2 separate regions of the Homo sapiens genome follow, and region 1 is linked to region 2. Evidence: fine-mapped expression QTL. Tissue or cell type: whole blood. Region 2 holds a variant in brackets; the other region holds the start of a gene. All regions are shown on one strand. Distances are from middle to middle. Region 1 holds the start of POPDC2 (popeye domain cAMP effector 2). Region 2 overlaps PLA1A (phospholipase A1 member A).

The links. PIP is the estimated chance that this variant, and not a neighbour inherited with it, causes the effect. A credible set is the group of variants that fine-mapping cannot tell apart.
Region 1: POPDC2 starts here. The variant in region 2 is the best candidate, but not a certain one, in a credible set for the expression of POPDC2 in whole blood (TOPMed, PIP 0.55).

Annotation. Positions count from the first base shown.
Region 1 is chr3:119,657,888-119,663,266 of GRCh38, forward strand. It overlaps POPDC2 (popeye domain cAMP effector 2), which reads right to left and starts at 2,702. Exons shown (of 4, transcript NM_001369919.2): 1 at 2,046-2,702. The coding sequence starts at 2,536. RefSeq lists an enhancer at 4,957-5,006.
Region 2 is chr3:119,625,560-119,630,938 of GRCh38, forward strand. PLA1A (phospholipase A1 member A) reads left to right here. Exons shown (of 11, transcript NM_015900.4): 10 at 3,142-3,306; 11 at 3,825-4,252. The coding sequence ends at 3,909. Among named protein-coding and RNA genes, the nearest start is that of PLA1A, 30 kb to the left of the region's middle. The variant G/GA (reference allele first, on the strand shown) is at 2,075.

The DNA.
Region 1 (5,379 bases), 32 kb after region 2:
TTTTGAATTTTATATGAGAGAAACGTCTAAGTTAAGCGCTGCTTAACAGGGTGATAGACTTTGAGAAAGTCACTTTCCCTCTCTGAGTTTTGAAAGAGATTGGTTTCCTTTATTAAAACAAAACAAAAAGACTTCTGAGGTTTGAGTGAAGGACTCTAGAGAACAGTGTGCATGTGAGATGTGGAAGTCTGCACAAGAGTCCCCACTTCCTGGCACAAAGTTCTTGTCTGCTGCTTTGAGATGTTTGGTCCCTTACTGTAACCAGCCCAAGGTTCAGTGATTCTCCTTTAAAACTAGAGCCCAGTCATAGACTAGAAGCCTTTTCCTCTATGTCCAGCTCAGCAAAGCTGAGACAGGGTGACACTGAAAGATAACAAAACTCTTACTCCAAACCTTGAAAGGCAGGAAAAAAAAAAATCAAAATTGTCTAATTTCTGACTCAGCCTTTTGATGCTAAGTATACCAGGAAAAGCTACACCAAGGGCAAGCCCCCCTCTCCCCTTCACTGGGAAGTGATCTTATACAAGTTCACAGTAAATCTATCCTAACTGAACTATACAGTAACCATACATGCTTCCAGCAAATGGGCACCCTACACTGGAGGGAGCACTTCTGCTGCTCTCAATTTCCTCCTTTGAACAGACGAGCTATAACATCATGGGTCTCATGAATGAGCAAGTTCCCTAAATTGTCTTTAAGCATGGAACTATAGGTGCAAACATTTTCACAATAGTTATATGTATTTGTATTTACATCTATATCTGTTTACAAATAATCGCATTGGTTTACACTTTCAGTTCACCAATAAATGAAATGAAATGTACCCTCACAAAATGTCTCCCCTCCTAGCTCACTCTATCCAGGACCTCTGAGTTCAAACAAAATCAAAACATATATACATGATACTTCAGGTTCTATAAATGAATACACAAACACGTATTATTACTATTAGTGGTAGTTGTAGTACCATTAGCATCATTGTCAAACTTTTTTCTCCATTGTGTGGTTGGCAGTATTATCTGGATTTGCTTTTTTTTTTTTTTTTTCTTGGAATTGGAGCCTTCTAATTGCCATCTTACCTTTTCTATCACATTCTCCTGGTCTCAAGAAAGCTGGTGGAGTGGGGGTTGTGGGGCTCAAGAGCCACTAGGGCAGTATAAAAAAATCCACAATTGCCTACTAAGTGTGTAGCACAGAGCCCCGTGATGTTTTCTCAGAAGAAATCAATGCCCAACATTCACATCCAGGTTGACTGGGCATACACTGATCCTGACTAAGACCATTTCTGCCCATATCTGACTGTCAGCCTTCTCCAAAAGAGGCGGTGCTTCCACAAAAGCCTTGATGAGATAGGTGTATCACTTCTCTTCTCCCATTGTTGGGCCCTCAGATTTACAGTACTGTACTTGACTTCTTAGTCTTCAAGAACCTCAATAGAACAACTGGAAATGGAAAGGTGGGCAAGGGGTATTCACTCTCCCTACCTGGCTACATACAGCTACCCCAAACACAAGTGGGGCTGTTTGCTTGATGCCTTGGCAGGGAACAGGGGTTATGAGAACCACCCCGCTATCCCGACCTCCCATTTCTGGCATTGTTCCCTGAATACAGTTGGTGCTTAGCAAATGTTGAATTTGAGTAAGGAACAGATTAACCTTATTGAAATGTTAGTTTTTCAAAGCTTACAGAGATATTGCTGCAGCTTAGGCATGACACACTGATATGTGTGTGGTGATGGTAGAGGGGTTATTTAAGGCCCAGGCTCAAGACACACGCACTGCACACCTTCCAGCAGCAAGTGCACATACAATCATTCTTGCCAACCAAGATGCCTCATGAACTGGTTTCTTCTTGGAAAATGCCAAGAAAGAGGAAGCAACCCCACTCTTAGAAAAATCTATTTTGGTTTGTTTGACTTGTCACATCCTTCCCTCAATGGAAGGGGACACGAAATGGAAAGGGACATGAAATGGAAAGGGACACACTAGGAAATGAGAAGTGTGGGCTGGGGAAAGAAATTCTGGGCAATGGATAGAGTAGCTTACCGGCCAGAGAGCAGCAGGGACAGGCGGTTGATGGGTGTCTCACCCTCCACAGCATAGGTCTGTTCAGTGGCCAGAGTTAAGACCTGCTCCTCGCAGCAGTGAACAATCTCCTTGTATGTCTGTAGGGGCACCTGCAAGGGCAGGCACAGCGTCTTGTAGAGGAGGTCAAACTCCTCAGGGAGGGTGTCCTCACGCAGGCGGTATACCAGGTGTGCCAGCTGGAGCAGGCAGACCACAGCCAGCAGGAAGCTCCAAAGAACAATGTCCAGGCCACAGGCACTGAACCAGCCCCACAGCACGCAGCACAGGTAACCTGCACTCAGGAAGCCAAAAAGATAGAAGCATCCATACACCCCACTGCCCCCCATGAAGCCCAGGAGTAAGAGGCAGTTGGCTAGGTGGTAGACAGCCCCTTCCACATCCTGCTTCCACCTAATGCACGCTGAACCCTGCAAGAGAAGCTGGCCCACTCTGCTGCTGTTGGCGCTCATCTTTGGGGCCTCTCAAAGCCTCACTGGGCTCTAATACTGTCCTCACATAGGAAATTCAGAAAATGAATGAATCCATCCGCTCAGGGGTCTTCTCACCTCCGGCTTCTCACTACCGACTCCACCTTTCCTAGAAGGAATGCTTCCGGTGGCTTTGGGAAGGAATGATGGAACATAGTACACTTCATGGAGAATTTAAAAACCTCTTTCTCTCTCTCTCTCTCTCTCCCCCTCTCCCCCCCTCTCTCCTCCCCACCACCCCCGCTGTCTCAGCAAGGCTCTGGCTCTCCCTGCAGAGCTCTGGCAAGCTTCCTTGGTTCCATGTTTCTTGGGAGTCTTCAAATTTGGTTCTTAGCAGAAAAACCTAAATAGTCCCAAGGGAAAGTAGCACTACAGGACTGAAAAGTCCAGCAGCGTGGGATGATGCGGCCACATCCTGCTCTCTGTTTTTCCCAAGCAGAATGAGGAGAGCCAGCATGGGAGGCACATTTGTGTTCCATTTGGAATGTGTTCTCTCTTGGCACCGGAAGAAAGGGTGACCCCAGATGGATACCATGTTTGGAATTGGAATCCAAGAGGTACTGGCAGTGAGAAAAAACAGGCCAGGCACAGGCAGCCTGGCAGAGCACTTAACATACCTCCCAGAGGACAAGATAAGACCTCAGGGTCAGAGAGACAGACAAGGAGAGAGAAAGGAAAAGTGAGCACAGAATTCACCTGAACACCTCAGGCAGGAAACTGTCCCGAGCTCCCTTTGGGGAGAGCCAGACAGTGCTTCTGAGTGAGGACACATCAGAGTAGGAAAGTATGGGACTATTATCAGAAAAAATCCTAACAGTGAAAGCTGGAAAACCCCCTGAAGGCCTTTATTAAGTCACACTGCAAATATCATTATGTATTTATTTGACATCCATTTAACAAAAGTAGCTATGTAAAGTGGCTTTTTGAATTCTAAGCTGGCTTTCCCCTGCATATATCTGGATCTGGTAATAGTAAACAAATAATAATACATTGCCCAGATCATCATCCCACCCACTCCGGTGCTTCCAAATTATAATTCCCACCTATTAAACACCCATGAAGTGCCAAACCTAGATTAGGCATTTTATACACTTATAAGTTAGTTGTGACAACAATCCTTCAAAATAAATATTATTCTCCTTCTAGATCTGGAAGAAACTGAGGCTCAGAGAGGTAACAAGCTCCCACAGATGGTCTAAGTGGCAGAGCCAGGATTTGAACCCAAGTCTGTCAAACTTAATACTCTGTCCCAAGGGGTTTGCCAGTAAGTGGAAGTACAGTACTAGATCCATGACTCCCAACTCCACACTTCTATGAAGTCTGACAATTTTCAAGGAACTTCTGGTTGAACCTAGGAATCTACTTTGGGCTGCCAAGAGATAAAGCTGGAGTATGCAAACATTAGGCTAAGAAATGTTAGTTGGGCACAGTGGCTTACGCCTATAATCGCAGCACTTTGGGAGGCTGAGGCGGGTGGATCACCTGAGTGAGGCTGGAGTTCGAGACCAGCCTGGCCAACATGGTGGAAACCCTGTCTCTACTAAAAGTATAAAAATTAGCTGGGCGTGGTGGCGGGCACCTGTAGTCTCAGCTACTGGGGAGGCTGAGGCACAAGAATCTCTTGAACCTGGGAGTCAGAGGCTGTGGTGAGCCAAAATTGTGCCACTGCATTCTAGCCTGGGTGACAGAGCAAGATTCTGTCAAAAAAAAAAAAAAAAGGAAGGAGAAGAAAGAAGGAAAGAAGGAAGGAAGGAAGGAAGGAAGGAAGGAAAGAAAGAAAGAAAGAAAGAAAGAAAGAAAGAAAGAAAGAAAGAAAGAAAGAAAGAAAGAAAGAAAGAAAGAAAAAGAAATGTGACTCTCTGGATTCCAAATGACTCCTTGATTCTTCCTCCCTGCTGCTGGGTTAGCACTTACTCCCATTACTCCTATCGCCCCTGAAGTACAGGCGGGGTGCTCAGTAACCTCCCAGAACTAATCAAGGACTCAATTCATAAGGACTTTTACTATACTGCTATAACTTGATGAAAATTTATGAGAAATTCAAAATTGTCAAATATGGTGAGAAGGAGATGTTTTCACTCAACAAATATTTATTGAGTGCCTTTTATGAGCTAAGCCCTTGGGCATCAAAGATCCTCAAGAGAAACTTTCACCCTGTTAGGGTAAAGAGACCTCAAAAAACAAAGGCAGTTCAGTATGTGAAGCACAACAACCAAGTTAACTTTGAAGGATGGTGGCAGCCTAGAAGGAAGGGTGGCATCAGGGAGGGAAGATGCAAAGAAGGGCTGGCCTCTAATTTGAGGTTTAGGGGTTGAATTCACCAGGCAGGTAGAGGGAGAATAGCATTTCTAGTGGGGAGAACAGCATTTCTAGTGGTGAGAACAGCAGAAGCACGGGCACAGAGGCATGAAAATGCATGGCATGTTGAAGGAAGCCAGTTTTTTCTTAACCTCATTAAAATCATCTGACCAACAAATATATACCTTATTTCCTCCTTTCTAAGTTAAGAGGAAAAAAATCAGTAAAGAGCTAGAGTATTTGGAGAAGAAATGTCACTGAGGTCACTCCATGGACATGATTTGGACCCCTGACATCATTTTAACAGTGGGGTTTGGGGATTTCCATATACTGTTTTTACATCACTTGCCTGCCTCCCAAACAACCCCCCTACTTTAACAAGCAGCAGCTGCTCATCCTTCTATCACAGACATGCAGCCCCTGAGCTTCCAGAGTAGCTGTCCCTGCCAGCTGTAAGCAGGGAAGTCAGAAGCATAGAAATGAAGAAGCAACCAAAGCTCTGCCCAAGATACAATTTCAAAGCAGCT
Region 2 (5,379 bases):
GGGATGTCAGTAGGGAGGAGGGCCTCAGTCACCAGCCCAGGAAGGGCTAGCCAGAGCCTGGAGAGCACCCACTCCTGGGAAAGGAGAGCAGTTCTGGGTCAGTTACCAGAATGGAATCTGAGGCACAGGGTCAGTCAGCAACGGAGTGCGAGCTGAGGGCCAGACTAGCGGCCAGGAGGGCTTGGTGCTGGGTGATTCCTGAAACTGGGGGTAGTCATTCCCTTCCTTTGTTGGGGCAGACTTGGGCTTGGGGGCTGGTGGGACTACGCTTGAAGTGAGAGGGCAAGGAACCCCAACTGTAGGGAGCCACAGCCTGCAGGGGATAGGAAGTCAGCAGCCATGGTGCATGCTTCTTTAAAAAGCAACCGGTTAGTTATTCACAAGCCAGCGGGAGACAGATTGTCAGATAATGTCACTGTCTCAGTGAGAGTCCGGTCAGGAAAACAGAGGAGGTCCAAGAGAAGGAATTTAGCACAGTGAACTCATTACAAGTGTGTTGGATGAGCTGGAAAACAGAGATGGGGACACAATGCAGAGATTAATCACAACAGGAGCCAATACAACCCTAGGCTAGAGGGACAAAGCAGGAGTGGAGTTGGCAAAGCTGGGTCCACAGGGAAGGCTGCTTGGCAGGAGCTGAACCCATGGGAAGTGCGGCCCCTCTGGAACCCCTGCCCAAAGCAGCCACCCACCTGAGCATGCTTCCACTGGGTTAGACCTCACTGGAACCTGTTGGTGGGGGAACCTGCAGGGGAATAGATCAGTCCAGAGCAAACAGGGAAATGACCAGTGCACACACACTTAAATGAGTGAGCAATGCCCTGAGAGTGACAGCATAGAAGACAGAGTCTGACTGAGTCCAAGGAAATGATGAGCAGGCTTTCCAGGAGCTACCCAGGCCAGGCTTAGAGAGAATGTGACACCTCTGGTGTGTCTGGAGCACAGATTTGGGGTTGTGGGGATGCTGTGAGGCTGGAGAGGCAAGTCAGAGCCAGACCCTGCCAGGCCTTGAAGGACAGGTTTTTATCCTGAGAGTAGTTTGGAGAGCCACTGGGAGTTTTAAACAGGACAGTGATGAGATCAGATGTGAGTTTGGAGATATTTCTCGGGTTGGGATGTTGGACATGAACTCTGCTGTGAGGCACTACAAGTTTCTGCTGGAAGGAGTGCATTTCACTCCCAAAACCGTGGCCACTAGCTGGTGTTCCTTCTGGCTCACCCAAAGTCACACAGCTAGGTACAGCCATCAGGATTCCAGCACAGGCCTGCAGGTGCCCACAGAGCCTTGCAGATTGTGGCTGGATATCAGTAAGCCAAGTACCTTTCATTAGACCCGCTCAAGGTTGTGCTACTTCTAGAAGGGTGTTTTCATCATCTTCTAGCCCATTGGTAGGTCCAGCAACACTGGCAGGAGTCATGAAAATGACCCACAACCCTGACTGCACGTTAGAATCACCTGGAGAGCTTTAAAAAATACTGACGCCAAGCCCCCCAACCCAGACCAATCACATCAGGGTCTCTGGGCATAGGCTCCACAGCTACATTTTAAAAGCTCCCCGAGTAATTCCAGTCAACATCCACAGATTAGCGCTTCCTCCTCCATGAAGAGGTTCACATAACTCTTTTGAAGAAGGCACCAGAACATGATTCACTTCTTGCAGATCAGAAATTGGGGGAAAAACGGGGAGGTTATGTGTGGTCTTTTTCCAAATTTCTATAGCTTTATGCGACGCTAAGATTTCCTTCTAATTGGAGAATTAACCTGGGCCAACTCCCCAAACCACTCACTTAAAAGATTTTTCATATTCCTTGTATTTTACAAACTCTTCAGTCTAAGCTTAAAGGAAACAATCTTATTTATTCCCTCTGTAATATTTCAAAAGACTTGTGAATTTAAAAAAAGAGGGAATGGTTTTTAAACAAAATTATACATGATCTTCCCTCAGAAGGAAAAAACAAGTGATATGACTAACACTGGACTAAAAAGAACACAAAGAGGCCCTATCACCACTCTGCGAAGGCCAGAAAGGAACAGGAAACCCAGTTGGCAAGGGTGGTTCCCCACACCACCCCT[G/GA]CCCCCGCCGAGAGGAACGCAGCGCCCTCCTTCTTTCCTCTTTTTCAGAGTCCCACTTGGATTCCAGGGAGGATCACAAAGGGCCCCACAAGTCAAATTCCTTCCCTAGCTGGGTGGTGCAGCTCTGCTGGGCGCCCTCCTTGATCCCCCACTCACCACCCTCAGGATCTGCTGGCTGGGCTGTGCCTTGCACTCAGCGTGAAGACTTTCCTCATTGAATCTCACGATTTTTTGCTTTTGTCTCCAGTACCTAGTACCTAGGGGGTACCACAGCCCTTTTGGAAGCACCCTGCTAGGTTGATCACTTCATACTCCTCCCTCATCTTTGTCTCAGTCCAAAGTGGTGCCTGAATCTTTAAACATAAAGGGAATCTGGGGGGGCAAAGCCAAGAGGCTGGGTTAAGACAGAACTGGATGCCATTTTCACTCTGAGTCTCCTCAGCTGAAGTCAGTATGAACCAAACCCTACGGTTCAAGTTCATAGCAGCATGTAGGGAAGCTGGAACTTACACCTAGTTGCTATGTGACTCCACAGCCACCTTGCCAGCTTAGGTAACTTGTCCAAAGCCATACAGCTGGGAAGACAAACCTGGGTTCCACCCAACTCTGTCTGCGCTTCATGATGTTTTCTTGTTGCTGTTTCCACCCACACATTCATACTTAGCCTAAAACAGAAAAGTCCTTACACAGAATTCTTTGAAAAGGAATGTCCTAAAAGAGGGTTTCTACTTCTGGGTAATTAGATCTGAAGGTGAAGATCTCCTCCAGCTAGGAATCCAAGAACGAGGAACAGTTTTTCCAGATATGAAAATCCAGGAGCTACTATTTTGTTGCAGTGTCCACTTGTTTATTCTAAAAAATCAACAACTACTTTCTTGGTCATATTCAAAGCTGTAGGTGTGGGCAGAGGGGCTGGTGAAGGTGACACAAAGGACTGTGGTAAGGAGCTAACCCCTTGGTGCATGACAGCCAACCAGTGCCACCAGCAGAGCCCGATCGGAGCCAAAGGGGAAGTACAGGTGGTAAGGGCTACAGTCATTTACTTTCCCTTTACCCTTTTCTTGCAGACCTAAGCAGCAACGCTATGGGAAAGGAATCATAGCCCATGCCACCCCACAATGCCAGATAAACCAAGTGAAATTCAAGTTTCAGTCTTCCAACCGAGTTTGGAAAAAAGACCGGACTACCATTATTGGGAAGTTCTGCACTGCCCTTTTGCCTGTCAATGACAGGTAAGCCCCAGTATTCACCTCTGCACCAGATGCACTCACACATCAAAGACCAGTCTTGGCATTAGATGTGCTGCCTATTGAGGTTCAATCTCATCATAGTGATTATCATCTTAGAAGCAGAGATGACAGACACCCGGTGTTTTCCAGAACCTCCTGTGGGACCATCTTGGGTTGGGGAAATTCCACTGTATTTGTTCTGCATATTTGGTTTCTATGTAAGATTTTATTAGAACAAAGTTTTCTCATTGCATATTTTCTCCTCTGTGGCCTCCACTCCAACTGTGTCATGGGTCACATTCATGGGTGTGGATCCAGAATCCACATCCCCTTTCCCTTCCTCTAAAGGCATTTATGTCATTAACCTTACCACCCCTGGGCACTTGGACCACAGGAACTGGCTCTTAATTGTAGGTGATTGCAGATTTCTTTCACCAGACATCATGGGAATTCAAAAGCCACACAATGCCAAGCCCTGTCTCCTCACCAGCCACTGCTCTCTTATTGCTCTTCTCTTCCAGAGAAAAGATGGTCTGCTTACCTGAACCAGTGAACTTACAAGCAAGTGTGACTGTTTCCTGTGACCTGAAGATAGCCTGTGTGTAGTTTAACCTGGGCAGGACACATCTCCCTGCATTTTTTTTTTTTTTTTGAGAGAGAGGTGTGATGAGGGATGTGTGTGTGCAGCTTATTGTAGACCATTACTACTAAGGAGAAAAGCAAAGCTCTTTCTTATTTTCCTCATAATCAGCTACCCTGGAGGGGAGGGAGAACTCATTTTACAGAACTTGGTTTCCTTTGCCGATCTTATGTACATACCCATTTTAGCTTTCCCATGCATACTTAACTGCACTTGCTTTATCTCCTTGGGCATTCGTACTTAGGATTCAATAGAAACATGTACAGGGTAAACAATTTTTTAAAAATAAAACTTCATGGAGTATCTGAATCATTTAATTGTTTTACTTGAATGGAATTCTGTTACCTACAAAAAGTTGAGATTTATACTCTGTGGGATTGGAGAAAACAGTATTGCATTATCGGTATTAAAATAGCAACTAAAAGAAGTACTTGGAAAAAGAGAGGGGATGAAGGGTAGGGAGGAAGATGGCACCATTTACCAACCCTTACCATTACCTCCTCTGGATATCTGGAAGGTTTGAGGGATCAGAGAGATCTTGGGGAATACAGGTAGATTTCCTCTGGGTTAGTGTTTCCCAAACTTTGATCTTTGTAAATAACCTTGTATCAGCCGCAGCCCAGCAAAAAACAGATGGTGCGCTCAATCTGGGTTATTTGAGGAGAATTTAAGAAAAGGACAATTTGCCATAGTCTTTTGTGGGGCAACCACAGGGATAATGCAGTTCCCTGAAGCTACTGGCAGTAGAAGCTGCTACTACCCTACCTGTGAAGAGGCCAGAGAAGGAGGGGAAGCACCAGAAGGCTGCAGACCTGCAGTGCAGGGACACAGCCAGCCAGCAGCAACCCCGCAGGGAGGGAGCAGAAGCACAGGTTCTCTGACTTCACTCTTCTTCCTCTCCCATTTTCCTGCTAGTGCTCCCCATTAAGGACCCCCAACAGAAGCCAGAGGACAAATAACACATTGACATGGCCTAACCAGGCCCGGGGCATACAGCAGGACAGAGAAGGTTGGAGAGTGGATGGGAAGGGGGTGCGGAACTAACAGATATGGCACACGCCTTCACCACTTTCCCAAATCCAGGTTGCCTCGGATTCTTTTATTCTTTAAATTCACTTTTTAAAAAACATAAATAAATGAGCTTTAAAAGGAAACTGCTGACTTGCTGATTCACTCTCCACAATGAAGACAGGGAGAATGATGTAAGCAACAGGCTGCAATTACTTCATCTGGGCCAAGTCAGCCAGGGCACTGAGAGAGCTTCGGCCTTTGTCCAGGCCTTGGAAATGCAACCAAAAGGACAGGTGAGGCTCACGAAGATGTTTAACTGTCTGCATGATCACAGTCATGTCTAAAGAATACACATGTTCCCTGCTATGTAGGCTTGCAATTTTCTATTTTGCCTCAAACCAAAAACCCTCCTTTCCTTTTCCTTC